Homo sapiens: one gene and its partner. The protein of the gene in region 1 interacts with the protein of each later gene in a pairwise test. Each region holds a gene or a part of one and is shown on either strand. Other genes may lie near its edges.

Evidence for each region. Proteins that work in one complex are often made in the same cells at the same time.
Region 2: the proteins of SCMH1 (region 1) and HK1 interact in a two-hybrid assay, tested with the Homo sapiens proteins (one large-scale study listed by IntAct).

The regions. Positions count from the first base shown.
Region 1 is NC_000001.11:41,026,702-41,029,306, reverse strand, and holds the end of SCMH1 (polycomb protein SCMH1), read left to right. Parts: intron 1-561; coding exon of another isoform or gene 562-580; coding exon 581-723; exon of another isoform or gene 724-774; intron 775-987; coding exon 988-1,113; 3' UTR 1,114-2,105; downstream 2,106-2,605. UniProt on the Homo sapiens protein: Associates with Polycomb group (PcG) multiprotein complexes; the complex class is required to maintain the transcriptionally repressive state of some genes.
Region 2 is NC_000010.11:69,395,347-69,398,846, forward strand, and holds part of HK1 (hexokinase-1), read left to right. Parts: intron 1-3,248; coding exon 3,249-3,482; intron 3,483-3,500. UniProt on the Homo sapiens protein: Catalyzes the phosphorylation of various hexoses, such as D-glucose, D-glucosamine, D-fructose, D-mannose and 2-deoxy-D-glucose, to hexose 6-phosphate (D-glucose 6-phosphate, D-glucosamine 6-phosphate, D-fructose 6-phosphate, D-mannose 6-phosphate and 2-deoxy-D-glucose 6-phosphate, respectively).

The DNA.
Region 1 (2,605 bases):
TGGGAGGCAGAAGTTGCAGTGAGCTGAGATGGCGCCACTGCACTCCAGCCCCTGGGTGACAGAGCGAGACTCCATCTCAAAGAAACCAAAAAACCAGCTTCTGCCTTAGTGTATCAGGCTGTAATGAGGTCACCTATTCTCCAGGCCTTGGAAAAGAATCCAGGGTATTTTTTGCCCACGTGCCAAGGATTTGTCTCTAATCTTACCAGGCTACCAGTCTCTCTAGAAATGGTCCCCCAGAGCCAAGGCAAAAACAGCCCCACTCACCAGGCCCCCCAGACACCCAAATAGTCCCCTTACCATGTTGGTACCACTGTCTCAGGTTTGGGCTGAATCATAGCCTCAATGCAAAATTTCTTCTGGCCATTTCCAAAAATCAGATCTACCCTTAAAAAACAAAGATTTGGCTTTCCCTTTGTGAAGAAATGCTTCCCTCCCCCAGCTATCTCCAGTTCCTCAGCTCATCGTCTGGCACTACTGTGAGCATCACCTAGAAGGCCACTGAGATGTGCCAAGGAGAGTGGTGGGGATTTACAAACCAGTCCCCGCCCTTTATGGTAGGTGCCCTCCTGTCCTGCAGGGTCGGACCGATACCTGGAGAGCCGCGATGCCTCTCGACTGAGTGGCCGGGACCCCTCCTCATGGACAGTCGAGGATGTGATGCAGTTTGTCCGGGAAGCTGATCCTCAGCTTGGACCCCACGCTGACCTGTTTCGCAAACACGTAGGTGCTGCTGCCTGACCTCTCAGTAGGAACCTGTGTGGAGAGCCTCACCTGGTGGGGACAATACGAGATGTTTGGGGAGGAGGGATGCTTAGAGACAAAGGCTGAGGAGAACAGGTAGGCTTCAGCATCACAGCAGGTGAACTGGACTCCATGTGGCGGGCACTTCCCAGGATGGCCTATAATCAGAACCTGGGGTGGTCAGACCAACCAGGACTCTGATGGTGCCTCCCTTCCACTTCTGCCCACCTCCCCACCCCCCAGGAGATCGATGGCAAGGCCCTGCTGCTGCTGCGCAGTGACATGATGATGAAGTACATGGGCCTGAAGCTGGGGCCTGCACTCAAGCTCTCCTACCACATTGACCGGCTGAAGCAGGGCAAGTTCTGAACCAGGAGAGGCAGCCTAGACAACCAAGTGGCAGCAGGTGGGGGCATTCTTCTAGGAATGAGGGGCATCAGCCCACCCCAGGCACCTCAGTGGGGTTCCGGGCCACCTCAGGACTCCAAGAGGCTGTGTGGAGCCACCACTCCTAGCCACAGCTGCCATGATAAGTCCTTCCATGAAGGACTGAGGAGGGAGAGTGGGGGTCCAGGGCTGGTGCTGCTCTTCCCTCAGCTCTGCCGGGGCTCTAAGGTCCCTCTATTTATTTCTCAACCCTGGCTGGCCTCTCACCAGGAGTTTAGGCTGAATGCCTTCCACGTGATGGAGGAAAAGGCCAACTCTGTCCTGGTCTTGCTGTGGCACCCCATCGCCCCACAGCTCGTACCTTCTCACCAGATTCCCCTGAATCCAAACTCGTGGTGCAAACCTCTACCTTTTTTACAAAAAGATCTTATTGTTAATTTATTGTTTCTGGCACTTGGGCAAACCCTGTAGTTAATACTCCTCCCACACTAGACACTGGGTTTCAGGAGGAGGGAGACTGCCCTGCTTTGGTCCCAGAGAGGCCCTCTGCAGATAGGCGTGGCCCCTCTTCAGAGGACACTACCCTAGGGCACTTTCTCTTTGAGGTGGAGAGACCCATAAAGCCTTGACCACATCACTCCATATGGGGAGGAGAAGGATCCCTGTCACCTTCTCCTCTCTTCACGGGGCCCTTTTGCAGCCCTAGGCCTCATCTGTGGGAAGGGAGTCCCTGGCTTATACTGCCCCCACCACAGCTCCTTGCCCTGGCCAGAACTGCTGTCGAAGAAAATCAGGCCGGAAGGCCAAGAAGGCGCTAAGGGGGATGGGAGGGCAGGTTTTCCAGGCTGGAGTCGGTTCCACCCACTCGCCTGTCCACAGGCTTCCTTGTAAGCAAGTCAGCAGCACAGCTACTCACGCTGCCATCTGGACTTATTTTATGTCAATCTGTTTATAAATAAAAACCAATATAGATACCAGTGTCTTTTTAATCAGTTAACAGCCAAATCACTACGCATTCATTGGACCAGTCATTCCCCTTCTCTTGGTCTTAGTTTTCTCATACATAAAACGAGGCCGAGCACGCTGGCTCATGCCTGTAATCCCAGCACTTTGGGACGCCAAGGTGGGAGGATCTCTTGAGCTCAGGAGTTTGAGACCAGCCTGGGCAACATGGTGAAACCCCAGCTCTACAAAAAAAAAATACAAAAATTAGCCTGCTGTGGTGGCGCACACCTGTAGTCCCAGCTGCTTGGGGAGCTGAGGTGAGGGGATGGCTTGAGCCTAGGAGATCGAGGCTGCAGTGAGCCGTGTTCGCACCACTGTACTCCAGCCTAGGTGACAATTTGAGACCCTGTCTCAAATAAATAAAATGGAGAGCTTGGAAAAAATGATTCCTAAGCGTCCTTCTAATTCCAGCAGTCCCTAAAGAACAGGTGGTCTTCCGAATGTCCACCAGAGCCCCAGCATCACACAG
Region 2 (3,500 bases), on another chromosome or scaffold:
GCAGGCGGATCATGAGGTCAGGAGATTTGAGACCATCCTGGCTAACATGGTGAAACCCGATCTCTACTAAAAATACAAAAAATTAGCTGGGTGTGGTGGCATATGCCTGTAATCCCAGCTACTTGGGAGGCTGAGGCAGGAGACTCACTTGAACCCAGGAGGTGGAGGTTGCAGTGAGCTGAGATCGCGCCACTGCACTCCAGCCTGGCCTGGCAACAGAGCGAGACTGCATCTCAATAAATAAGTAAATTACTTACTTTCCTTTTATCCATCCTTTATGTTGGGGCATTATATTGATTTATTTGAAATTATGTGTGTAAGAGGGCCATATGGATTCCATTTCAGATGGTAAAGATGCACTACACATACTTGTATTGGGGGTGCATAGGGCCCACCTGGATTTATCTGAAAGGCAGCCTGGGGTTCAGTGCCAGGCCACCCAGGAGCTGATGCCCCTCAGCAAGTTGTTCCACCTTCTTTCTACTTTTCTCCTGTCCAGGGTACATTTCTTCCTGGCCTTTGCTGTCTTCTAAGGCACGCTGTGTGAGAAGGAGGAAAAAAGGGTCAGAAAAAACAAAAGCAATTGTGCAAATACTGTGTTCTTCTTAGAATGGTCATAATAACCTAACGTAGGCTCTGTGTAGGCTGGGCACGGTGGCTCATGCCTGTAATCTCAACACTTTAGGAGGCCAAAGCAGGTGAATCACTTGAGTTCAGGTGTTCGAGACCAGCCTGGTTAACATGGCAAGACCCCATTTCTACAAAAAGTGCAAAAACTAGCCGGGCGTGGTGGCACATTCCTGTGGTCCCAGCTATTTGGGAGGCTGAGGTGGGAGGATGGCTTGAGCCCGGTGGCGGAGGTTGCAATGAGCTGAGGTTGCACCACTGCACTCCATCCTGGGCGACAGAGACAGACTCTGTCTCAAAAAAAAAAAAAAAAGAGAAAGAAAAGAAAAAAAATATTAAACCTTAAACAAAAAAAAACCTAACAAGCCTATACACTGCTCTTACCCAGGCAAAATGGTTTTTAAGTATACAGTTCGGTGACATTAAGTACATTCACATAGTCGCACAGCTATCACCACCATCCATTTCCGGAACTCTTTTCATCTTCTCAGCTGAAACTCTGTACGCAGCAAACACTAACTCCACATTCCTCCCTCCCCCCACCCCAGCAACCACCATTCTACTCTCTGTCTCTATGGATTTGACAACTCTGGATACTTCATATAAATAGAATCATACAGCATTTGTCCTTTGTGACTGGCTTAATTCACTTAGCATAATGTCTTAAGGTTCATCCGTATTGTGGCATGTGTTAGAATTTCCTTATTTTTTTATTTTTATTTTTTGAGACGGAGTTTCACTCTTGTTGGCCAGGCTGGGGTGCAATGGTGCAAACTTGGCTCGCCATAACCTCTGCCTCCTGGGTTCAAGCGATTCTCCTGCCTCAGCCTCCTGAGTAGCTGGGATTACAGGCGTGCGTCACCATGCACGCCCGGCTAATTTTGTATTTTTAGTAGAGATGGGGTTTCCCCATGTTGATCAGGGTGGTCTCAAACTCCCGACCTCAGGTAATCTGCCCACCTTGGCCTCCCAGAGTGCTGGGATTACAGGCATGAGCCACCACGCCCGGCCATAATTTCCTTATTTTTAAGGCTGAGTGATATTCCATTGCATGCACACACTGCATTTTGTTTATTCATTCATCCATCCATGGACACTTGGCTTGCTTCCACCTTTTGGATATTGTGACAAATGCTGCTGTGAACACGGGTGACCAGTATCTCCTTTCAGTTTGTGTGTGTGTGTGTACGCACCCCAAGTGGACTTGCGGGATCATATGGTAATTCCCTGTTCAGTTGTTTGTGGAACCACCATGTTGTTTTCCACAGTGGCTGTAACATTTTACATTCCCACCAGCAGCCCGTGAAAGTTCTAGTTTCTCCACATCCTCGCCAACACTTGTTATTTTCTGAGTTGAGAATAGCCATCCTAATGGGTATGAAGTGGTATGGAAAGTCTTTTCAAGCATAATAGCAAAGAAAGAAATCATAAAGAAAAATGGCCAAATATAGCTACATAGTGTCTGTAAGTAAAAAAAAAAAGTAATCAAACTTAAAAGGCAACGGTAAACTGAGGAAGACATTTGTACTGTGTATGACAAGACGCCTAGCAGGGCATGGTGGGCTTTGGCAGGTCTGGTCTACACCTGCTCTTCTCCACCGGCTGTGTGCTTTGCAATACTCAATTTCTCCCAGCCTCAGTTGCCTTATCTTTAAAATGGGAATAATCATACATTCATTGGTTGTTTGAGGAGTAAGTAAGGTAATGTATGTAAAATATATGTTACATGGTAAGTCCTCCAAGAAGCCTGGCTGGTCTTCATTGTACCATCCCAGTTATCGTCTCTTTCAATTTAATATAAATAAGACAAATATATCAGGAGAAAAGTCTTGAGACGTAAGAAGTAGTTTATATGGCCAAAAAACAAATGGAAAAAAAAGAGATCATCCTCACTAATAGAGAATAATATAAATTGAACTACAGTCTTGTGATGCCTTCTTATAAAACTGTCAAAAGTTGTAAAAAAATGCTCTTTTCCAGTGAGGATAAGTGTGGCCAAATACTCTGCTGAAGAGTAAATGGATACAATTTTCTGTAAGGCATCTGGCAATGTGTAGCAAAAGCTCGTTGACCCAGAAATTTATCCTAAGGAAAAACATCAGAATTGCACACAAAGATTTATAAACAAACCTTATCAAAATGTTTCTTTATAATAGCAGAAAATTGCAATTAACTTGAATTTCTCCAAGCTGGCTAAAGAAATCATGGTGCATCCCTAGAGGGAATACTGCAGCAGCTGTTTCCAATCCTGTTCTCAGATAAGGCTGTGGGAAATTGCTCAATGCATGAAACAGGAAAGAGAAAGAAAATCACATATCAAGGATAATCCCATTTTGCATATCATGAGAAGCATACCAGCTAGGAAAAATAAACTGGAAGGAAATATATTAAAATGTTAATAGCATTTTCCTAGATGTTGAGATAGTGAATGGTTTAGATTTTCCAATTTTTATTTTGCTAGATTTGCCAAATTCTCCACAGTTTAACATGTAACACTTGCCCTTGACTCTGTCTGTGGATGAGTACAGTGATTGGGGGCGGGGGGCGTCCTTTGGACGTGGTCTCCAGGCTGCTCTTGTGGGTCCTGCTTCATCCAGCCCTCTGGCTCTTGTCCCCCACAGTGACCGATTAGCACTGCTCCAGGTCCGGGCTATCCTCCAGCAGCTAGGTCTGAATAGCACCTGCGATGACAGTATCCTCGTCAAGACAGTGTGCGGGGTGGTGTCCAGGAGGGCCGCACAGCTGTGTGGCGCAGGCATGGCTGCGGTTGTGGATAAGATCCGCGAGAACAGAGGACTGGACCGTCTGAATGTGACTGTGGGAGTGGACGGGACACTCTACAAGCTTCATCCACAGTGAGTGGGCCTTCCAGT